Linked DNA regions of Homo sapiens: regions 2, 3, 4 and 5 are each linked to region 1. The links come from fine-mapping of genetic effects on gene expression. A gene starts in region 1. Each other region holds a variant in brackets. All regions are shown on one strand. Distances are between the middles of the regions.

The links.
Region 2: its variant is fine-mapped to the expression of HYCC1 in monocytes after LPS (Quach 2016, PIP 0.95). The same link has a PIP of 0.9 or more in monocytes after Pam3CSK4 and monocytes after R848.
Region 3: its variant is fine-mapped to the expression of HYCC1 in whole blood (TOPMed, PIP above 0.99).
Region 4: its variant is fine-mapped to the expression of HYCC1 in tibial nerve (GTEx, PIP above 0.99).
Region 5: its variant is fine-mapped to the expression of HYCC1 in iPS cells (HipSci, PIP 0.95).

What each region holds. Positions count from the first base shown.
Region 1 is chr7:23,012,227-23,017,226 of GRCh38, forward strand. HYCC1 (hyccin PI4KA lipid kinase complex subunit 1) reads right to left here and starts at 1,904. Exons shown (of 11, transcript NM_032581.4): 1 at 1,699-1,904. RefSeq lists enhancers at 606-1,287, 1,705-1,894, 2,055-2,234 and a silencer at 1,245-1,514.
Region 2 is chr7:22,972,842-22,977,841 of GRCh38, forward strand. It overlaps HYCC1 (hyccin PI4KA lipid kinase complex subunit 1), which reads right to left. Exons shown (of 11, transcript NM_032581.4): 5 at 4,500-4,580; 6 at 3,852-3,967; 7 at 3,369-3,464. Among named protein-coding and RNA genes, the nearest start is that of HYCC1, 39 kb to the right of the region's middle. The variant T/C (reference allele first, on the strand shown) is at 2,064.
Region 3 is chr7:22,942,265-22,947,264 of GRCh38, forward strand. It overlaps HYCC1 (hyccin PI4KA lipid kinase complex subunit 1), which reads right to left. Exons shown (of 11, transcript NM_032581.4): 11 at 1-3,899. The coding sequence ends at 3,325. Among named protein-coding and RNA genes, the nearest start is that of HYCC1, 69 kb to the right of the region's middle. The variant A/G (reference allele first, on the strand shown) is at 3,084.
Region 4 is chr7:22,840,801-22,845,800 of GRCh38, forward strand. No RefSeq gene overlaps it. Among named protein-coding and RNA genes, the nearest start is that of SNHG26, 11 kb to the right of the region's middle. RefSeq lists an enhancer at 2,904-3,404. The variant A/G (reference allele first, on the strand shown) is at 2,064.
Region 5 is chr7:22,926,097-22,931,096 of GRCh38, forward strand. It overlaps a transcript of HYCC1 not described here. Among named protein-coding and RNA genes, the nearest start is that of SNORD93, 72 kb to the left of the region's middle. The variant T/C (reference allele first, on the strand shown) is at 2,825.

The DNA of each region.
Region 1 (5,000 bases):
CAACAGGATGCTGAATAAAACAGTACATATATTTAAACTCACCGTCAAAGACACCAGTCTAAAAAATACAACCCAGAGCAAATTTCATAAAACAGAAATACAACAATGAAAGGAAGCAGAGCAAGGATAAACGCTGACCCAGCTAATGCCTTATCGGGTGTCTGTATCCAGGTACTGCTAATGCCGATGACTAAGAAGGTTTCTAATCCTTCTAATCCCTCATGGTAATTTCAATAAATCGAATAAGGATAAACGAGCCAAATCCAGAATTTGTTTCCTAAATATGTGATGCTTTTCCCCCTTGCCACTTGGTTTGATTGAACTGATTATTTGAATAGCTGACTTTGAAGCCACTATTGGCCAAGCAGATCTTAAATGTTTTTCCTTCCTTGTCTTTGCCTGCACTTCAAAAATATGGTGGTTTAGACTACTATTCATCCTGTAAACCTTAAAATGTATTCACCTAAAGAAAAAAAAATACTTGGAAATGTCGGGGGAGGTGGGGTGCCTGTGGATGTTAGCAGTAGAATGTTTTCATGGAAAACAAGCCTCCCAGTCTTTCTGACTTTATGGCAATAAGATTTGAAAGCTGAAAACCTCAAACTGTAAAGTGTTACATGAACCAAAGAGGTGGCCCACCTGCTCCAAAAACTACTGTGTGATCCAAGGATAAATAATTTGCAAAAGGTCAGCTTGGCCCTACTGCCTGTAGGGCAGTCTCTGAGATAAGAAGTAGCTGCCGGTGGAACAAATTCCCCCTACCTGAAGAGCGCCGCGGCTGCCAGGCTTGTGATAGTGTATTTCTCAGAGAGCAGATTCTGTGCAGTACTAAACCACTTAGGCAAAATTAAAATCTTTCAGGAATGTCTAAACTCACAAAGCACACATGTGCAAGCTGACGGGCAGACAGCAAATTTCGGGGAAGCGTACAAACTTGGGGGTGTTTTAATGCAACCATTTTCAGCCAAACCCCCGAGGATTCCCGAGTATGTTAAAATGAGCCTCAGGAGAGGAATAACTCATAGAAAGAAGGGGCAAGGGCTCAAGAAGAGATCTTCAGCGAAATAACCAAGGAAGGAAGCGTGGCTGCTGTCTGAACCTCTCCGCCCTGCAGGGGACCAAAGACCGACTCGGGCCAACGCTGCTCTCCAGGGGGCGAGGGCGGGGGGTCGACAGTGACCATTGTGGCCACCAGACCGGACGGACAGTGGCGGCCTCGCCGAAGTAGAGGGCGCGAGTGGGAGAGGAGGCAGAGGCCAGAGCATCCGCCGCGGCAGGGAGGGGACGGGGGGCTCCCGCCCCAGGCCCACCCGGCAGAGGGGCGGCCGGTGGGGCCGAGGCGGCGGCACCCGGGTCACAGCAGGAGGCTGGACTGCTCCTCGCCGGGAAGGAAAGACCCGAGTCGCGCGCACAAAGCTGCCGCCCTCCAGGCAGCGGGCAGGCTGCGCCCAACTTCGGGGCGAGCAGCGCCGGCCGCAGCCCACCCGCCCGCCAGCCGCCCCCAGCGCCCCGCGCCGCCTCGCACCCACCCATGGCGCCTCGCGCGGGAGCCGTTACCCCCAGTGGAGCCGCGGCCCCAGGGACAAAGTCCCGGTCCTGTCCTCGCCGCCGCCTCGCCCCGGCTCCTCCCTGACAAAAAAAAGTTATCCGTTGCCGGACGCCCTGGGGGCCCGGCGTGGGTCTCTCGGCTGGACTCACCAGGGCGGCTGCCGGAGCTCCACCTGCAGGACCTCGACTCGTGAGGCTCTCAGCGACAGCGACGGAGGCTGCTCTGCTTCCTCCCGAGTAGCAGCACCACCTGCTCCCCTTCTTCCTAGCAGAACGGGTCCCGGTGAGCCATCTTCCCCCTCCTCTCACTGACTGACAACCCAGCCGGGAGAGCCACCACTGCCGCCAGCCTCTCTGACAGGCACGACCAGGGACCCGTCCTCAAGCAGCCAACCACCACCGCCCCACGCCAGTTCAGCCTATCGCCGTCCTCCGGGGCGGGATCAGAACAACTTCTCCACCAATGAGAATCTTCTTCTGCTGGGCCTGGGGCGGAGCCATGAGGCGCCTTGAGTGGGCGTGGTCTGAGCAATGGGCGTGATCCGGGCGTCCGAGGGAAGTTGATTGACTGTAAGGTTTGCGGTGGCCGCTAGGCGATGACAATCAGCGAAGGTCTCTTAGATTCTGAGCCGTTAGGGCTTATGGCCTTCTCAGAAAAAAATAAACCTTACCGGATGATGTGAAGGGTATCAATTTGTTTCTCTTTTGTGAGAAAAGAGAAACAAATTGATAATTTACTAGTCAGTAGGATTTACTTCCCTGTAATTAAATTCACAAGAATTTATCAAAATCTTATCAAATCCCGGGAGGAAAAAAAAATTACGTTTTTGCAAAATGGAAATACAAACTTCCCCCTCACTACATCATTGCTTTTGGGCTTAGCCTGGAAAAAGTCAAATACGATGCCTCAGTTTTCTTTCCATGGGGGTTGTTTTTATTTTTTCCATCATTCCTCCCTACTTTTTCTCTGAACATATACTAAATGTTTTGTATAATAACTGGAACCCGAGAACACCTGAACCTGCGCCTGCAGACAGTACTGCTGTTTTTGACCTTGTAAACCTCTCCTACCACATCCTTCTCAAGACTGGTCAGGATTAATTAGAAGAAAAACTGACCTCCACCCTAGAAGACAGGAAGTTCATTCTAGCTTTACACTAGAAATGGGCAGGATTTCTCCAGAAACACTAAGTGAACTTTTCAAACATGCTGAACTCATAAATAACAAGCACATAAATAAGAAGATATATTACTTGATATCAAAAGGGTATCAAGCAAACAATTTCAGGTAATTATTAGGGCAGATTGCTAAAACAGATAGGATCCCCCTCCAAAGGGAGGATCAGATTAATGAGTAAATAATAACAAACTACAGTGATAAGGACAATAGAGATTGGTTCAATGAGCAATGGAAACAGAGGACAAGAAATGACTGTTTAGGAAAGTCAGCGAACTCCACAAGGAAGGTAATGTTTGAGTTGGATCTTAAAAGGTAAATGGGAGTTTGCCAGAGAAGAAAGTCAAAGGGTATTTCAGAAAGGGAGAACACCATGTTCAAAGGCATGGAGCTGTGAAAGGGCACAGAGCCATTGTGGAATGTTGAGAAGGTAGATGGGGTTAAATGATGAGGAACGGCCAAAAATTGGGCTGGAGCAAAAGGTTGAGGTGAGATTGTAAAAGACCTCACAAGCTACACTAAGATATTCAGACAAGCACTGTCCAGCAGAGCTTTCTGCACTGGTGAAAATGTTCTATATTTGTGTTGTCCAAAATAGTAGCCATTAGCCACATGTGGCTATCAAATACTTGAAATGTGGTGTGACTGAAGAGCTCAATGTATTTATTTATTTATTTATTTATTTTTGAGACAAGGTCTCACTCTGTCACCCAAACTGGGGTAGAGTGCTTAAGTGATCCTCCCACCTCAGCCTCCCAAAGTGCTGGGATTACAGACATGAACTACCATACACGGCTGAAACTCAATTTTTAATTTTTTTTTTTTTTGGCAGAGTCTCCCTCTGTCACCCAGGCTGGAGTACAGTGGTGGGATCTTACCTCACTGCACTTCCACTTCCCAGGTTCAAGCAATTCTCCTGCCTCAGCCTCCTGAGTAGCTGGGGTTACATGAACTCACCACCACACCCAGCTAATTTTTGTATTTTTTGTAGAGACAGGGGTTCACCATGTTGGCCAGGCTGGTCTCGAACTCCTGACCTCAGGTGCTCCACCCACCTCAGCCTCCCAAAGTGCTGGGATTACAGGTGTGAACCACCATGTCTGGCATTAATTTTTAATTTTAACTTTAACAACTCCCATATTGGATAGCTCAGGTTTAGATTTTCTTCTTAAGGCAATGAGGGACAGACAACAGCTTTTAATCATGTGGACAATGCAATCAGGTTTCTTTTAAATGGTGAGAATCCAAAGAAAAAAAAACAGGGTAGAGAGGAAATTCTTGACAGATCAGACTGACTTAATTTAGGTCCCCTTGGCCAGAGCCTGTTCAGGACAAGTGTTTACTCAAAGAAATAGGGAGAGGAAGATCCAGGCAGCATGTTATTCATCTTAGAGAACACAAGCAGTCAAAACCTGAGACGTTGAATTCTGCCGTCAAGTCCCATTGAGTAGGAGAGTGAGGGACCAAGGAAGGAAAGAAACCGAGTCAGCCAGATCATAAGATAGAGAGAAACAAGAGTGGGCAAAAGAGTGCACACCTACGCGCATGCACACACACACACACACACACACACACACCATCAGTTTTACTGGCCATTGGCCATGTGTGCCAGTAATGTGTTGACCTGATTTGAAGAGCCAAAGTTTCTGGTGGCAGGAAGCCCAGCCAAGACCAGGACAAGATTCCAGGAGAGAATCTCGAACCAAACCTGTGGAAGTCAGGATGGAAGGGACAGGTAAATATTATTGACTTCCTGTACTGTACAAGGCACGTGGCTTGTCAAGGATACAGATGAATGCTAGAAGCTTGCTTATAGTATAGTTAGCTGCATAACAAACAGATGAAAGGTTAAGCAAAGATTAAAGTAATTATTTAATGCAGCAGTGGAGAGATTACATAAGGCAGTACATAATCGATTCATTGTTCAAATGATTTTCTAGGCATTAGCCGCTGTGTTTTCAGAGGAGGATGCAAGCACTGCAGTCAAGGGCAGTCAGGGAAGGCTTCATGAAAAAGGCAAAATGGGCTGGGTCTAGAAAACTGGGGAGGAATTTGAACCAGATAAAATGGTGAGAAAGTAACTCCCAGAATGCCTGGAGAAATAACACAAGAGGGGAAGCACAAGCAATGTTCAGAGGGCATGGGAGGCAACTTGAGTCAGCCAAGCCTGGCAAGCTAGGTTGCAGATAGATAATAGAACACCTTGAAGGCAAGCTCAGTTGTTCAGATTTTCTCCTTTTGCCTTGTGGCTTCCTGTCTGCTCATTAGAATCACT
Region 2 (5,000 bases), 39 kb before region 1:
AGATTTTTGCTCAGTAGAATGAATTTGTGTGAGCATAGGTGGAGGGTGGGAAGTGTTCAAGATTGTTTTAATTATTTTCATAACTAATTAAAATCAGAAGATTAAAAAAAGACTGTAACACATTTGTCACTGAATCTAGTTCATCTATCCCATGAATTTTTTCTGGTTGTATTTATGTATCCTTTCTCCTAGATGACCCAGTCAATCATTTTGGTATAGTCATCAACCAAATTGAGCAGCAATCTAAAACAACTATCACATGGCAAACAGGATTAGATGGCCCATGTAACAGCAGGATCACTTTCATCTTCAGGAAAACCTGTGTTAGTGCTAAGATCATTAAGAAGCTCTTGTACTTTAACTGGTATAACCATTTCTAACTTACTTATCACCACAGTTCTGTAACCAATTTTCTTTCCATAGATATGAACTAGGCTTAACATGATTAACAAAAGTGTTTTCTAATTCTTTTCTATTCATCTTAGAAATGTACAAAACCTCCTAATTAGAATATCTGATAAATGATTAAGAAAGCCAGTAGGTAAGAGAAATAAATAACTGGATTTTATCATTGAGAATACAGTCAATAGGGAATCTAAAATGAAAACTTAAAGACATAAACAACTAAAAATGACAGGAATGATAAATTTGATAGAGTTCCTCTAATATAACACATTGTAGTTAAGAGTTAGCATTATTTAGATAGCTTAAGTCTTTTAAATTACTTAGATCTTTTCCCCCACTCTTGTTTTTTTTCACAGCTGGTGGACATTTACATGAAATTAATTTCTCTTGTGGCATAAATTGATCTATTTCTACCAAAACTTCCTTGGCCAAAATCCTATAGCTAGTTTTAAAATAATCTGTTTCTCTTTGTTTTTAAAGCCAGTTTTTACTTGCATTCTCTGTTGAAGAATTATTCAGTTCCCTGGTCAGGTAAAATTGGTATATTAGCAATTTTCTACTCATAATATAAAAGTAAGTATATTAGAATGTACTACGTTAGAGTTAGATAGGCTAAAAATCAGTGACACATGTTCTTTTCTAACTTTTCCGTCAGTAGTTTCAGGGAAACGTCAAGAGTGGTTGGGCACTGTATTAGAACATCTATGGAGCTTCAAAAAATACATTTATATATAATACATAAAAATACAAATATATACATATATAGGCATTCCTGGATCCTACCATCTAATACACTGCTTCAAAGTAGGACCTGGACTTTGCAGTGTGTTCTAAGTTCTAGAGGTGAAAATTGCTGCATTGTTACTCCTTAAACCAGTATTTCTGAATGTTGGTCCTTATACCCATTTTAGTCGATAACAGAGTTTTCACTAGACCATAGTGAAACGAAAAGCAAGGAAAGCTAAACTTATCCCATTTTTAACTTATAAATTATTTTCCTTCCCTTCCACCCTCCCACCTTTTTGATATTAAAATAGTCTCCCTTTTGTTAAATAATGTTGATGGTAGACATTTACAATATAATGACTTGGCAAAATAAAAAGTTGCCAACACTTATGTAAATAACCCAGCTGTTCCACCTTTTTTGAGATTTTACAGATCTGTGAAATTCAAAAGTCCGGACATTTCTGCCTTTAAACAATTTAAAGCAAAAAACATCTTAGAACGACTTGGTGAGTGGGAGAGATGAACCACTGGTACCATCTTTTAAGGTTAGGAAATGTAATTATGCTCTAATTTGGAAAACACCTGAAAGACTTCACGTCTCTATCTTCTCTACCAAGCCCTTTGTCTTGTGAATTCTCTTCCTCTGCTGATTCTGCATGGCTTTCTATCCTATTCAGTATCAAGTTCTGATTTTTTGTTTATTTTGTTTTCATTTCATTTCTAAGTATTGCTCAATGATCCCGTCCTCTGTGATATGGTTTGGCTGTGTCCCTACTCAAATCTCATCTTCAACTGTAGCTCCCATAATCTCCACATGTCGTGGGAGGAACCCAGTCAGGGGGTAATTGAATCATGGGGTTGGGTTTTCCCATGCTGTTCTCACAATAGTGAATAAGTCTCATGAGATCTGATGGTTTTATAAAGGGGAGTTC[T/C]CCTGCATATGCTTTCTTGCCTGCTGCCATGTAAGACGTGCCTTTGTTCCTCCTTTACTTTCCACCATGATTGTGAGGCTCCCCAGCCATGTGGAACTGTGAGTCCACTAAACATCTTTTCCTTTATAAATTACCCAGTCTCGGGTATTTCTTCATAGCAGTATGAAAATGGACTAATACACTCAGGATAAGTTGCATTTTCTAAATAAATTCCTCAAATAGAAATTATTCCACATGTTCCTTAGTTCTATAATATCTCTTATTTACTTGAATTATCGAGGGGAATAATCTGTCATTTTTGTTTGTTTTGTTTCTCCTTTTTAAAAAAAGTAACATTCACATTACCAAAAATTTAGAAAATCACAAAAAAAATCACAAAGGAGAAAATTAAAATAAACCACAATTCCACCAACTAGAGATAATCATTGTTAATATTCTGGTCATATTCAACCAATCAGGAAATCATACCATACATACTATCATTAACTACTCTTTTAAATCAGGATTTTTAAAATGTGAATATACTATACTCAAGGATATAATTTATTTTATAACCCCTTGGCTCAATTTATTTTTAACAAGAAAAGTTTAAGAACCAGTATCTCTTACTTATTTCTTAGTTCCAAATTAGAGCACAGTAAAAATAAATAAATAAATGCAAACAAAAAGAAGCCAACCACATGCCAAAACTTGAAAGGTCATAACAGCTCTATCATTTAGCTATATACTATAATCCTTTTCTGATTAAATAGTCAATTTAAACGTTATTCAGCTTTACATTCTTCATGATGTTCTTGTTTTTGTTGTTTTTGTTTGTGTTCTTTGTTTTTGAGACAGGGTCCTGCTCTATCGCCCAGACTGGAGTGCAGTGGTGCAATCATAGCTCACTGTAGCCTCAACCTCCCGGGCTCAAGTGATCCTCCCACCTCAGCCTCCCAGGTAGCTGGGACTACAGGCGTGCACCACCATGCCCAGCTGATTTTTTAAAATTTGTTATAGAGACAGGGGTCTTGCTATGTTGCCCAGGCTGGTTTTGAACTCCTGGGTTCACGCAATACTCCCACCTCAGGTTCTCAAAGTGCTGAAATTACAGACATGAGCTATCGCATCCGGCCCTTTATCATGTTTTTTGTGACTATCAATTATAGGGAACTTTCCATGTGTTGGGTAGGCTGAGCTTTACATTAACTTATTTAATGTTTTAAACAAATGATTACACAAAACAAAAATAACTTAGGTATGTACCAGACTAGCAATCATAGATTCATATATTTCAATATTAGAAGCACTTGAATTTTACTTTACCTTGAACAAATTTGACACAGTGACTGAAGAGAAACACTGGGCATGTAAGTTAAGGCAGCATTGTAACACAACAAAAGGAATGTCAACACTTCAAACCTAAAGACAAACAAAAAGAATATTAACAAATCTTTAGAATTCTAAGAAGTCAACTATAATAGGGGAGAGAGCACTCCTTGGGGAGAGATACAATGTTACAGAACAGACCTGCACAGTATAAGCACACCAATAATGAAAAACTACAAGGAAAAAAAGACTTTCCAAGTAACAGCCATATGAAACCTGTCTTTAAAATTCAGTGTTCCAGCTGACACCTGAAGCAAAGCACAGTGACAAATCTAGATCTGTTTTTCTCTTGTATAAAATGACTCAGTATTCAAATAAATTGTCACACACAACTCATTAAACATTATTTATAAGTCTACTGAAATAATTTTCTTAAAAAATTAGTGGATTAAGATAAGAATTTTTATCCCCACAGTATACCGATTCTGTGCTGTCAGCATCTCCCTTTGAGGATGAGGTCCACTGTATACCACTTTTGACAAACCATGCTGGGATAGTGCACTCTCAGTCAGAGCCATGGACCCAATGCTGGAAGGCTAGAGAAAAGACATTTGAATAAAGAAAAAAAAAGCTATTCTGCTGAAAAGGTGATATATAGAATATATATATACCACTAAAATAGCTACCACGAACATCATATATCTTAAACATATTTAGGCTGCCTACCAAATTTTCTGCTCGAAGATTTAATAACTAATTTTAAAACAAACCACAAATGAGAAATAAAAATTAGTTTAATTTCACAAATTCTACCATGGAAATACACAATTGCCCACCCACCACCCCCCTGCCCGCCGGCCAACACACACAAGTAGCCATCCATCAGGAAGAGGGAAAAATATTTCAAAAAGAATACTTTCAATAGATCTCTTATTAGCACATTTTAGTTTGATGTTCATTTATTTTGATTTCTTATCTCAATTTGGAAATAGTAAATACTTTGTGGGTGTTTATACTTTTGCAGGTACTAATAAATTGATCAATTTTTTTCCTAAATAACTAGATTATAACTTGTGGCAATATCAAAGCTTAGGGTCAATAAACTTACTGTGATAAAATGTCACTTACTTCATGGTATACAGATGGTTTGGATAAAGATGGAATCGTAAAACTCAATACTTTGGTATGTCCCTGTTTGTCAACTATTTCCTATAGAAGTGAAAGAAAATATATTAAAATACATACTTTCTTACACACAAATTTACAAACTAAATTTAAATAGTCTAAAACATTTTTTTGAAAAAGACCTGAATAGAAAGGAATTTTAAGTTAAAACCTTAAACCATGATAATCCATTATTATTCATCAACACCGGTAGTTAAACTGTACATCCTTCCACTTAAAAAACATATGTAACAAATTTTCAGGATGGCTGAGATACAGATACAGTGTCTTAATAATCCTTGATCTTACTCATGTAACAAGTTATATTTGCTAAGCGAAGTAATCATTTAAATATGAAATATGTGAAGAAAATGACCTTATATTTCTTTTCTATTTTGAAAGGTACAAAACTTAAGTATCTAGAATACCATACGAATTAACATATAAACTCTATTAGTAATGCAA
Region 3 (5,000 bases), 70 kb before region 1:
GAAAAGAGCAATGAAATATTGCTTTTTCAAAACAAACTTCAGGCATCATTTAAATGCCGAGAATTCCAACTCTTCAAGTCTTGAGAGCTTGCCTTAAAAATTTCCATAGTGGTATACAAAGGACTCCAGGGTGCTTTCCTGTGGCTTCAGGAAGGGAAGGGAAGACATTTGCCCTGGGTAGTCTGGGACAGTCCCTTGAAAAGTCTATTTTTGTTTCTCTCCCCACTTGGATTCCAAAAAGCTAGTGCTGGCTCCAGTGCCACCAGAATACTCCAGGCCGTTGGGTTTTCAAATGTGAGAGGTTGGGTGATTTCAAGAATCTATAGAGATTTAAAATGTGCAATGAAGCCACAATTTCTGTTCAGATCCTCTGAAATATGGGGTGCAAGACCCCAATTTTGTGTGGAATCCTTCTCATGATAAAAATATTATTCTGGATACTTAGGAGATCTGTGACCATCAGCATCTTTATAAGAAAGTGACCTACAAAAGCTACCCCAATTTTCAAATTTGAAAGTTCAGTGGGGAGAAAGTAGTATGGATAATAGTAATGGTTACCATAGTTAAGATTATCCAATTTTCATAATTTCTATAAAAACTTTCAATGTGTAATCCTTATTTGAAATAGTATCAAAGGAACTATAAAAGAATTTTGTTGTTAACGTAACTCCGCTCTCCAGAAAATCAATTAGTGCAAATCATTTGAAGCAAAAAATCAGAACCATTTCACTGAGCAAGTCTTCAGAGATTTTTTAAAAAGAATATACAAATGCAAATTTGTTGTGCAGTATATAAAAGGGTGGCACCCCTTTTCACACTTAAAATTTCAGGCATTTACAGCTCTGATTCCATTTATAGTTAACAAGAAAAATATAAAGTGTTACTTTTTTACTGCAAAAATAAGGATCATTAGCAATCTAGAATTCAAATACTTAAGAAGCCATATGTCAATATTATTAAACTAATTAATTAGCTGTCAAAACCAATGAAGATTATAATGATCTAGTGTCTGACACATTTGATCTAGGGCTGTGAGACCACTGGGAATTCTACATATTAGACGAGTAATTTGTTTGCACTCTGATACTTTCTTCTCATAAAAATCACTTGGGAACCTTGTTAAGAATGCAAATTCTGATTTAGTAGACCTAGAGTGGCATGAAATTCTGCATTTTTAACAAGATACCAGATAATGCCAATCCTACTTACTGGTCCTCAGACCACACAGCTAGCAAAGGTCTAGAGAGGTCTAAATGAGGTTCCATTACAGTGATAGAACATGAAAATCTGATCTCTCAGCTCTGTCAGCTAACATTTCCCCAAACTTATTCTACAATGTTTCCTAAGCACCTCAACTTGCTTAAAATGCCAATCTTAAAATGCCAAATTAGTTTTTAATAATACCAATACTATTAATAACTATGCACAGGGGAAATTCATTGTTAAAGAATGACAAAAAGACATCTGTAAATTCACAGTGATATTTTACAAATATTTTAAATTGTACACAGGGTTCCTATTAAGTTAATACAATATCAAGTTTCACTGCCCGATTGCCTTACAGTTCTTAACTACAATTTATGGCAATAGATCTTATTCCATTCTGTTACTGGAGCTAAAAGAAAATCAAATTCATTTATGTCAAAATCCACATTGTAAACAGGGCTAATGAATGAAAACGAGTTCATGCTTTTTGAAGAACTCGGTTTAAACTGGTAGCCAAAGCAGTTGCAGTTAAAACTATGTCCAGAGTATAAATGCTTTGGCAGCCTTCAAAGCATACAAATTTTTCATATATCTGAGCTCTGCATAAGCAGGAACAAGAGGAAAACACTAGCATGCTCTCTTGGTGACTACAGCAAGGGACTATGAAGAAGGAAACCGCTGTGCAGTCACAGTGAAAAAGAGCCAAGAACTGGACAGCTCCTTAGGTCTTCCTCAACGGTCAACTGACTCAGCCTCAGCCGTGCTTTCTCTCTCTCACTCTGAATGATGACTTAAGTACATTTGCTTTACAGGGGAACCGCAACCATAGCCAAAAGGACCACGGCTAGCAAACATCAAACTTTTATTTCCATCTAGAGGTCACATACAGATACATACAAGTTTGTTTCAACTTCTGCCATGTCGTCTTTTTCATTTTTACTTTTTAGTTGGGAGGTAACTAAATTGATTATTCTTTTGATATCATACTAAGATATTTAAAACAGGCCTGTTCACTAACAAGAAAGACATTTCTTTTTCTTCGTGTTTTAAATTTAAGAACACAAACATAAACAACTTTAGTTAATATATAAATGTCCTTTGTCCATATTTCACTACCTTTATTTTCTTTCATGACATTTTATAGATGAAAAATGCATTTGCAGACAAACAATTACATATTATACAGTGGTATCTTGAGAGCTATGTTGCAAGATTTACACTGATTTCCAGGAAGTCTTCCAATGACGTATGCTCTGAATTATAGGAGTCCAAACTAACTAGGATTTCCAAAGTCCAGCAGTAGGGTAAATCAGCTTTACAGCCTATTATACCTTAATAATTGAAAGGGATCTTCACATGCTAAATCCAGATAAAACACTTCAAAACAACACACCTACCAGCAATCTGATTTTTGATATAAAAATGTTTCAGAGATAACAACAGAAATGCCTCTAGCCATCCCCTGGAATCATATAATATTCTAGGCACTGGGTTACCAGGCATTTTCCAGGGCTTTGAGCAAATTGTTCTAATCATAAAGATGATCTGCTTACAAATATTTTCATCAGGTGCTTTTCATACACATCATTTTTGTGTTTCCACATGCCTGTTTTCAGATTGGCTTCCTGACCAGGAGCTAGAGAATTCCTGGAGTTGTGCCTCTGCCCCATTCTCTATAAAACAGTTCCCATACATGCAGACTCCCTTTGACTCTGAAGGCCAAACACACAGCCATCAAAATAGGAGCTATTAAAAAACCAAACCAAACCAAAACAAGAAAAACCACCTTACAACCTCACATGAGACATAACCAACTTGATTAGACAACCTGTCAAAATTTATTGTCACTGACAATCTTAGGGCAACAATAACAAATA[A/G]GAGGAGGGAAAAAAAAGACTCAAACCAAGGGGAAAAAATCTTAATCAAGAAATAACAAAACCATATTTCAACTTACTGCAACCTAGACAATCTTCCCTTCATAAAGTCAGGGGAGCCTTCAGAATTTAAGACATCAGGGCTCCTGTCAGGAATACGGATGAAAGACCCAGGGTACTTTCATAAAGAAGCAAAGTTGTATTTCCAGGTTCACTAGGTTATGGGAGAAAAATATGTTACTAATTAATCTGTGGACAGAGTAATGCTAATACTAGGAGGTCTCTGCTGACCTGATTGATGCTTCATTGGAAGTTCAGTTCTTTCTGAAACGTAAATAAGCTTTTCTTCTTGGAGACTACAAGCGGAAAACCTATTGGCATCTGTCCCAGCCCCACAACCAACAGCAGATGACGGGTTATGTGGGACTGTGACACCACTGACTTGTTCAAAGGATTTACTAAATACAGTCGCTGCGGTCTTAGCCAAACCATGGCTACTAGGCTTAGGTAGGGATTGGCTGGTTGTTAAAGTAAGTCTCTTCAAAGAGAGAAGCTCAAGATTCTCACTTTGGGCTCTCTGAGTTTGTTTTCGAGCAAAGTGATCTTTGCAAGATTCCCCTGTAGTTTCTTTTTCTTTTCCTCCAGTTTTGCTTCCTCCTGACCGTCTGTGGTTCTTTCCTATACTTGGCTTGTTACTACAATTGTGACTACTGTTTGATAAACCCGACTGGCTGGTACTAGACGCAGCCCTGGAATAAAATCCCTCGTCAACTTCAGATATCTCCATCAGTTCTTCTTGACCTGTTAATTCTGTATTTCCTAAACAAAGAAATGACAAAGATTAATTAACATTAAGTATTTTAAGCAATCTTTTTAAATGATTAACACCAAATCAGTTATGCTTTACATAAATTAAGCTTTAGCATAATTTATAAAGCAACAGATTATAGAAAATCAAAGGATAAATCAAAACATTTATTATAAAATGTCAAAAATACTTCACTGTAATTAAATGACAGTAATTTATAGTGTATTAAACAAAAAGCATGCCATAAACCATACCCCATTAAGTTTTTAGAAAGAATTCTCCTATTCATGCAAAAGATAAGAAACAATTAGAAATATCACGCAGTAAAACTAGGGGTGAACTCTCCTTCAGTAGCAAAGCAGTATAAAATCAAAGCTCTTACCAAGGAACTTTTAAAAAATTGGTATTAGAATACTTTAAAGACTTTTTTAGAAGGTTGTACTCTATATTGTAGATTATTTTATCAAATTAAAAAAATCTAGACTCTAAATATCACAAGCTCAAACATAAAATTCTATACACATTATCCTTCATAACAAAGATGGCAAAAAGACAAAGCCGAAAAAGTAATTTTAGAACTCCAAACATAAGCAGAAAATTATTTTAGAAGGAATTTTCTGCCTCAGTTTTCATAAAAATTTACTCAAAGACGATAAAGGTATAATCATTCCAAAGAACATTAAGAGTCATTGAGAAATGTGGTGCATAATTCATGCATTTGGATTAGATTACATGCAAAATTTTTGTGACTGTGCAACTGCTGCTTAACATGCATCAGTGGCCCTTTGCCTTAAGATACCTTGGAGTGCAGTTATAAAGTGCTCTGCTAAAACTGCACTCTGCCAGGTGAGTTTATTCCATCCTCCATCATTTTTCTTACAGATTTTTGCCTCCTGATCTCTGGCAAGCCTTTGCTCTCAGTTCTAGGATCTGTGGCTGTTTCCTGCACACCCTGTATATGCTGAGCATCAATCTCTCCTAGTGTTCTGCCTTTTTCCCCATTCCCGGTTCTCTCTCCGGCCACATTTGTGACACTAATCTCAGGAATGACAAGGATGCCCAATTCAGTAGCATCATTATTGTTGTCAGGTTGCTCTAGAATTGAAGATGAT
Region 4 (5,000 bases), 170 kb before region 1:
GCTTGGTAGTCCTACAGTGGTGTAGTTTCCGGGTAGAAAAAAATCCGTTAAAGCCTAAGACCTAGTTATCACTAGTTTAGGGATAGGACAGCCCTAAGTAGTAGTGAAGAACCTTGAGAGAAACATAAACTTTTACTAGAGGGAGTGTGAAAGGGTTGTCATCTTTTTTGAAAGACTGTGTTTTTCTTTTTGTTGTTGTTGTTTCTCAATACACTCATTTATTTATTCACCCAACCAATACAGTAGTTATTAAGTGCCTGCTATGTGTTAGGCATTGCTTAAAGACTAGAAAATATAACAATAAAAAAGATAAAGTTTCTGCTTCTGTGGACTTTGTATTCTAATGGCGGATAATAGTAACAATAAGCAGTCAACCATAATACCAGCAGCAAATACTTACATGGTGCTTCCCATGAGCCAGCCCCTTTCCTAAACTCTTTCTACACATTACCTCATTTTATCTTTATCACAACCTATACAGCAGGTACTGCTATTATCCTTATTTTACAAATAAGGACATTAAGGCATAGGCAAGCTAAGCAACCTGTTCAAGTATACAGAGTTAAAAAGTAACAGAATGGGGATTTGAATCCAGGAAGTTAAATTTTAGAGTTCATGTATTTGACTAATATAGATACATATAGATATAGATACGTATTGGTGTAGATAGGGGGGTGGAGGGAGAAAGACATGGGGAGAGAGAGAGATAAGGAAATAACTCCCCCACCGTTCTAGAGGATAGAAGACCTCTAAACAGAAATGATAATCTTCAAAGGCACTTAAGTTTTATTAGCAGAAGCTAATTGAGAGACAAATAGATGGAGAAAGATAATTGCAATAAAGAAAGCAGGGTAAAGCGATAGAAAGTAATGGAGGGGGCCAGTGCGGTGGCTCATGCCTGTAATCCCAGCACTTTGGGAGGCCAAGATGGGTGGATCACGAGGTCAGGAGATCGAGACCATCATGGCTAACACGGTGAAACCCCGTCTCCACTAAAAAAAAAATACAAAAAATTAGCCGGGCGTGGTGGCGGGCGCCTGTAGTCCCAGCTACTCGGGAGGCTGAGGCAGGAGAATGGCGTGAACCCGGGAGGCGGAGCTTGCAGTGAGCCGATATCGTGCCACTGCACGCCAGCCTGGGCGACAGAGCGAGACTACGTCTTAAAAAAAAAAAAAAAAAAAAAAAAAAGATAGAGTGACCAAAGCAGGCAACATTGACTGGAGTTGTCCAGGGCAGATTCCCAAGGCTTGCCCAACCCAAGAGCGTGTGATCACATCTCAGGTTTCAGCAGCAAACTCCAGAGACGACGTAAGACTGGGAACAGTTGCATCTCAGCGGTCACTGTCCTGAGGGCAGTTCAGACCCCAGCAGAGGCCAGTGAGGATGTGCATCAACCCCGTAACCCTGTTTCCCTTCCCCTGCCGTAAGCACCTCCCTCCCCCCGCCACACACATACACCAGATGCCATCTGGAGAGGCAAAGGGAAGGGGAGCAGAAACCCGAAAGACTAAGTCTGTTACAAAAATAGACTGAACATTTACCTCAAACGCCTGTTTAAATTATTGAATCTGAATAAATTACTTGACTGGACTAAAGTGTGAGACCTGCAAGGCACCTCAAGCCCTATCCAGCAGAACATGGGCTCAACAGGAAGCGCAGACCAGCAACAGAAAAATACAGAGTAACTCTGTTCTCAAGCCAGCATTTGTGACGCTGCTGCCCCAACTTGAAGACTACATTTGGCAAGGAGAGGAGAAAGGACACAGGATGGAAGCAAAAGGAACCTAAACAGGCCCTGTTGCTTTTCTGGAAGGCAGGAAGTCATGTTCACACAGATGCTTAGGAATGTCACGGGTTAGGAACTGAATACACATTGTGTACTTCTCTGGAAAGAATAAAAGGATTATTCATTTTTCATTATAATTTCTCTAAAGCAAAAAGCATGATTTAGGAGTAGCCATTTGTGGCATTGCCGCATTCAATTACCCAGCACAGATCTGGATGGGCCTGGCAGCTATTTCCAGGCTCCCACACCACATGTGGGTCATAAATATGCGTTAATC[A/G]AAAAGGACAAAGCAATCAAGTGGCTTTACGTCATTTATTACCATTTCTGTGAGGGTCAATTGTTAGTAACTGCCTGCATGTGGCTCAGGCAGCCTGGGCTTTATATGCAGAAATTAAGCAGTCACAATTCCTACCCTCTTGAAATTTAAACTTGGCAATGTTGATTTGAACAATTACGTAAAAAAAAAAAGGAACCAAACAAAGCTTCACCTGCAATTATTCTCCCACACGCCCACTCCGAGATCCAGCCACAGGGAAGCTCTTTCTCATGTCCACTCAGAAATTCTGTACAAGCTGTTCTCACTACCTGGAACTCCATCCAGATTATAGTAGACACTTGGAATGTGGTGCTGGCTTATACTCTTCCAGGAACTGAAAAGTGCGGGCCTTTTCCTGTAAAACAGGGATAGGCCCACACTGTTGGACACCTAGCCAATTGTTATTACTCCATGGCATCTTTTCTACAAAAGTACTCTGTTTTTATTTAGAGTGGTAATGTGCCTAGCGTGGTGTTGTTGTTGTTGTTGTTGTTGTTGTTGTTTTGAGACTGAGTTTCGCTCTTGTTGCCCAGACTGGAATGCTCACTGCAACATCCGTCTCCCGGGTTCAAGCAATTCTCCTGCCTCAGCCTCCCAAGTAGCAAGGATTACAGGTATGCGCCACCACGCCCAGCTAATTTTTGTATTTTTGGTAGAGACGGGGTTTCATCATCATGTTGGCCAGGCTGGTCTCGAACTCCTGACCTCAGGTGATCCGCCTGCCTCAGCCTCCCAAAGTGCTGAAATTACAGTTGTGAGCCACTGTACCCGGCGTTGTTTTTTTTTTTTTAATGTGTTTCTCAGTATCATTTTCAGCTAGAGGAGGGCATGTAACACAGTTCTGGCCAATGAGATGTAAAGGGAATCACCAAGTAGGGCTTCTAGGAAAAAACAGTTTTTAAAAGGGCTACCTCAGTTGACATTCACCTTTGCCCTTTGCCCTTCACCCTTCTTGGTCTTCTTGAGAATGCAGATGAGAATGCAGGATGTGTGACCGCGAGGAGTTAATTAGAAGGGCTAAAGCTATATTTTAAGGATGGCTGAACAGAAAGAAAGATCCTGGGTCCCTTTGAACCAGTTCTGAACTGTTGTGTGAGGAAAATGAGATCTCTATTTGGTTAAGCCCCTGTAGTCAGATTTTTATTATGTGTAGCCAAATGCAATCCTTAATTGGTTCTAGGAATGACAGAAGTGAGACTATATAAATTAGGTGGCCACTGTGGCTGGTGCTCACTTTTTGACAGTGCTTTCTTCCTCTTGGGCACCTGTAGTTGTCTGCAGAATTTGGAGCAATGGTAGCACAGTGGAATTTTCTCCAGTTCAATCGTGGGCACTTAACCATTAAGTGGGGGCCTAAGATGCACCAGACGCAGTGCTAGGTGCTGTGAGTACAAGCCTCTGCCCTCATGGCACTGATGTTCTATTCAGGGAAGAGGAAAAAAAACAAACATGCAAACAAGAAAAGGAAGTTAGGGCACTGTGAAGAGAAAAACAGATTAGGGAGGACAGGCATGCTGGGTGAGATGAGGGGAGTTGGCACTTTATACGAGGCAGTTCTAACGTGGTGTCTTAGTGGACTTGGGCTGTTATAACAGAGGACCACAGACTGGGGGCTTACATAACAGAAACTCACTCTCTCACAGTTCTGAAAGCTCCAAGTCCAAGATCAAGGTACCAGCAGGGATGGTTGCTGGTGAGGACTCTCTTCCTGGAGTATGGGCAGCTGCCTTCTCGCAGTGCCTCACATGGTCTTTCCTCTGTTCATGTGTGCCGGGGAGAGAGAAGGGCCTCTGGTATCTCTTCCTCTTCTTATAAGGACACCAGTCCTGTTGGATTAGGGCCCCTCTCTCAAAACCTCATCTAACCTCCCAAAAGGCCGAATCTCTAAATACTGTCTAGTCAGTCACATGGAGGGTTAGGGCTTCAACCTATGCATTTTGGGGGAACACAATTCAGCCATAATAGGTGGCTTATGACTGGAGACCTCAAGGAAGAGACAGTGCAGGCCAAAATGAAACCTGGGGGAAGAGCATTCTGGGCAGAGGAACAGCAAGTGCTAAGGCCCAGAGGCAGGCATGTTTGCTACATTCAAAATACAGCAAGGAGGCCAGTGTACATGGAGCAAATGTGAAAAGGACAGAGTGTCAGGAAGTAGGACAGACAGCAGATGGAGGCCACATCATGTACAGCCATGTAAGCCGCTGAAAGGACTTTGACTTTACACTGAAAGAAATGAGAGGCCACTCAAGAATTCTAGGCAGAGAAATAACATGATCACACTTACGTTTTAAGAGTTCACTCTTTTGTGTGGAGAATAACCTGCAGGTGCAAAGATGGAAGGAAAGTACCATAGAGAGCTGTTAAAATCATCAGGAAGGGTGACCATGGAAACTTGGACTAGGGTGGTTGAGAAGTGGTCAGAGTTGGGGTTTAGAGGTAGAGCTGGGATTGCTGCAATGGACAGATGTAAGGTGTAAGAGCAGGAGGGGAGTCTGGGATGCTGCCCAGGTTTCTGCCACAGGCATCTGAAGAATGAAATAGCTATTTACTTCAGTGGGGTTACTGGTGGCAAGATCAGTTTTTGAGGGCGAAAAATCAAGAATTCAGTTTTGGATAAGTTAATTCTGAGATGCCTTTTAGAAACCTAAGTGCAAATGTTGAGTGGGCAGTTGGAGAGATGAGTCTGCAAGTCAGGAAATAGTCTAGGCCTGTGACAGAAATGTAAGATTCATCAAATAAAAATGTCATTTCACACCGTATGACTAAACGAAGCCATCACCTAGACAGGAGTGGATCAAGGAGAGCAGAGATCTGAGGACTGAGCCCTGGAGAGCTCTGCAGTAAAAGGCGGGCAAAATGAAAAGGATCCAGTCACAGAGGCAGAAAAGAGGCAGGCTG
Region 5 (5,000 bases), 86 kb before region 1:
AGGAGAAACAAAATACTTTACAGACAAGCAAATGCTGAGAGATTTTGTCACCACCAGGCCTGCCCTAAAAGAGCTCCTGAAGGAAGCACTAAACATGGAAAGGAACAACCGGTACCAGCCACTGCAAAAACATGCCAAATTGTAAAGACCATCAAGGCTAGGAAGAAACTGCATCAACTAACGAGCAAAATAACCAGCTAACATCATAATGACAGGATCAAATTCACACATAACAATACTAACCTTAAATGTAAATGGGCTAAATGCTCCAATTAAAAGGCACTGACTGGCAAATTGGATAAAGAGTCAAGACCCATCAGTGTGTTGTATTCAGGAAACTCATCTCACGTGCAGAGACACATATAGGCTCAAAATAAAGGGATGGAGGAAGATCTACCAAGCAAATGGAAAACAAAAAAAGGCAGGGGTTCCAATCCTAGTCTCAGATAAAACAGACTTTAAACCAACAAAGATCAAAAGAAACAAAGAAGGCCATTACATAATGGTAAAGGGATCAATTCAACAAGAAAAGCTAACTATCCTAAATATATATGCACCCAATACAGGAGCACCCAGATTCATAAAGCAAGTCCCGAGTGACCTACAAAGAGACTTAGACTCCCACACAATAATAATGGGAGACTTTAACACCCCACTGTCAACATTAGACAGATCAACGAGACAGAAAGTCAACAAGGATATCCAGGAATTGAACTCAGCTCTGCACCAAGCAGACCTAATAGACATCTACAGAACTCTCCACCCCAAATCAACAGAATATACATTCTTTTCAGCACCACACCACACCTACTCCAAAATTGACCACATAGTTGGAAGTAAAGCACTCCTCAGCAAATGTAAAAGAACAGAAATTATAACAAACTGTCTCTCAGACCACAGTGCAATGAACTAGAACTCAGGATTAAGAAACTCACTCAAAACTGCTCAACTACATGGAAACTGAACAACCTGCTCCTGAATGACTACTGGATACATAACGAAATGAAGGCAGAAATAAAGATGTTCTTTGAAACCAACGAGAACAAAGATACAACATACCAGAATCTCTGGGACACATTCAAAGAAGTGTGTAGAGGGAAATTTATAGCACTAAATGCCCACAAGAGAAAGCAGGAAAGATCTAAAACTGACACCCTAACATCACAATTAAAAGAACTAGAGAAGCAAGAGCAAACACATTCAAAAGCTAGCAGAAGGCAAGAAATAACTAAGATCAGAGCAGAACTGAAGGAAATAGAGACACAAAAAAGCCTTCAAAAAAAATCAATGAATCCAGGAGCTGGTTTTTTGAAAAGATCAACAAAATTGATAGACTGCTAGCAAGACTAATAAAGAAGAAAAGAGAGAAGAATCAAATAGACGCAATAAAAAATGACAAAGGGGATATCACCACCAATCCCACAGAAATGCAAACTACCATCAGAGAATACTATAAACACCTCTACGCAAATAAACTAGAAGATCTAGAAGAAATGGATAAATTCCTCGACACATACACTCTCCCAAGACTAAACCAGGAAGAAGTTGAATTTCTGAATAGACTAATAGCAGGCTCTGAAATTGAGGCAATAATTAATAGCTTCCCAACTAAAAAAAGTCCAGGACCAGATGGATTCACAGCTGAATTCTACCAGAGGTACAAGGAGGAGCTGGTACCATTCTTTCTGAAACTATTCCAATCAAGAGAAAAAGAGAGAATCCTCCCTAACTCATTTTATGAGGCCAGCATCATCCTGATACCAAAGCCTGGTAGAGACACAACCAAAAAAGAGAATTTTAGACCAATATCCTTGATGAACATTGATGCAAAAATCCTCAATAAAATACTGGCAAACCGAATCCAGCAACACATCAAAAAGCTTATCCACCATGATCAAGTGGGCTTCATCCCTGGGATGCAAGGCTGGTTCAATATACGAAAATCAATAAACGTAATCCAGCATATAAACAGAACCAAAGACAAAAACCACATGATTATCTCAATAGATGCAGAAAAGGCCTTTGACAAAATTCAACAACCCTTCATGCTAAAAACTCTCAATAAATTAGGTATTGATGGGATGTATCTCAAAATAATAAGAGCTATCTATGACAAACCCACAGCCAATATCATACTGAATGGACAAAAACTGGAAGCATTTCCTTTGAAAACTGGCACAAGACAGGGATGCCCTCTCTCACCACTCCTATTCAACATAGTGTTGGAAGTTCTGGCCAGGGCAATTAGGCAGGAGAAGGAAATAAAGGGCACTCAATTAGGAAAAGAGGAAGTCAAATTTTCCCTGTTTGCAGATGACATGATTGTATATCTAGAAAACCCCATAGTCTCAGCCCAAAATCTCCTTAAGCTGATAAGCAACTTCAGCAAAGTCTCAGGATACAAAATCAATGTGAAAAAATCATAAGCATTCTTATACACCAATAACAGACAAACAGAGAGCCAAATCACGAGTGAACTCCCATTCACAATTGCTTCAAAGAGAATAAAATACCTAGGAATCCAACTTACAAGGGATGTGAAGGACCTCTTCAAGGAGAACTACAAACCACTGCTCAACGAAATAAAAGAGGATACAAACAAATGGAAGAACATTCCATGCTCATGGGTAGGAAGAATCAGTATCATAAAAATGGCCATACTGCCCAAGGTAATTTATAGATTCAATGCCATCCCCATCAAGCTACCAATGACTTTCTTCACAGAACTGGAAAAAAAAAACTACTTTAAAGTTCATAGGGAACCAAAAAAGAGCCCGCATTGCCAAGTCAATCCTAAGCCAAAAGAACAAAGCTGGAGGCATCA[T/C]GCTACCTGACTTCAAACTACACTACAAGGCTACAGTAACCAAAACAGCATGGTACTGGTACCAAAACAGAGATATAGACCAATGGAACAGAACAGAGCCCTCAGAAATAATGCCACATATCTACAACTACCTGATCTTTGACAAACCTGACAAAAACAAGCAATGGGGAAAGGATTCCCTATTTAATAAATGGTGCTGGGAAAACTGGCTAGCCATATGTAGAAAGCTGAAACTGGACCCCTTCCTTACACCTTATACAAAAATTAATTCAAGATGGATTAAAGACTTACATGTTAGACCTAAAACCACAAAAACCCTCGAAGAAAACCTAGGCAATACCATTCAGGACATAGGCATGGGCAAGGACTTCATGTCTAAAACACCAAAAGCAATGGCAACAAAAGTGAAAATTGACAAATGGGATCTATTTAAACTAAAGAGCTTCTGCACAGCAAAAGAAACCACCATCAGAGTGAACAGGCAACCTACAAAATGGGAGAACATTTTTGCAACCTACTCAATCTGACAAAGGGCTAATATCCAGAATCTACAATGAACTCAAACAAATTTACAAGAAAAAAACAAACAACCGCATCAAAAAGTGGGCCAAGGATATGAACAGACACTTCTCAAAAGAAGACATTTATGCAGCCAAAAAACACGTGAAAAAATGCTCATCATCACTGACCATCAGAGAAATGCAAATCAAAACCACAATGAGATACCATCTCACACCAGTTAGAATGGTGATCATTAAAAAGTCAGGAAACAACAGGTGCTGGAGAGGATGTGGAGAAATAGGAACACTTTTACACTGTTGGTGGACTGTAAACTAGTTCAACCATTGTGGAAGTCAGTGTGGCGATTCCTCAAGGATCTAGAACTAGAAATACCATTTGACCCAGCCATCCCATTACTGGGTATATACCCAAAGGATTATAAATCATGCTGCTATAAAGACACGTGCACACGTATGTTTATAGCGGCACTATTCACAATAGCAAAGACTTGGAACCAACCCAAATGTCCAACAATGATAGACTGGATTAAGAAAATGTGGTACATATACACCATGGAATACTATGCAGCCATAAAAAATGATGAGTTCATGTCCTTTGTAGGGACATGGATGAAGCTGGAAACCATCATTCTCAGCAAACTATCGCAAGGACAAAAAACCAAACACTGCATGTTCTCACTCATAGGTGGGAATTGAACAAAGAGAACACATGGACACAGGAAGGGGAACATCACACACCGGGGACTGTTGTGGGGTGGGGGGAGGGGGGAGGGATAGCCTTAGGAGATATACCTAATGCTAAATGATGAGTTAATGGGTGCAGCACACCAACATGGCACATGTATACATATGTAACAAACCTGCACATTGTGCACATGTACCCTAAAACTTAGAAGTATAATAATTAAAAAAAAAAAAGAATTAGAAACAAAGTAAAAAGAAAAAGAAAAAGAAAAAAAAAAAAGAAAAGAAAGAAGAAGAAATAGAAAATCAGAACAGATCTATAAAAGTAAAGAGATAAACTAGTAATCAAAAAAAACTTTGCACAAAGAAAATACTGTGGTTGAAGGCCTAGTGGTTTCCCTGGTGAATTCTGCCAAACATTTAAAGAATAATTCATAACAATACCCCATAATTTCTTCCAAAAAATAGAGAAGGGGGGAACTCATTATTTGAAGCCACTATTACCCTGACACAAGGCCAGAAAAAACATCATAAGAAAATAAAAATACAGAGTAATATTCCCCATGAGTAGAGATGTAAAACTCCTCAACAAAATACTAGCAAATCAAATAATCAAAGAAACATAAAAAGAATTTTTATGGTGTAAAGAATTTTACACCATTACCAAGTGGGCTTCACTCCAGGAATGCAAGGTTGGTTTATCATTCAAAAAATAAATTAATGTGCTACCCCATATTAATAGAATAAATGACAAAAACTACATGTTCGTCTCAATACTTACAGAGAAAACATCTGACAAAATTCAACATTCATTCATGATGATTTTAAAAACACTCAACAAACTACAAATATCAAGCAACTTCCTCAATGTGATAAAGAACATGTGAGATAAACCCACAGTTTGCATCATAACGTGAAAGACAGAATCTCAGAATATAATCTTACCTGGAAATAGTGTCTCTGCAAATGAA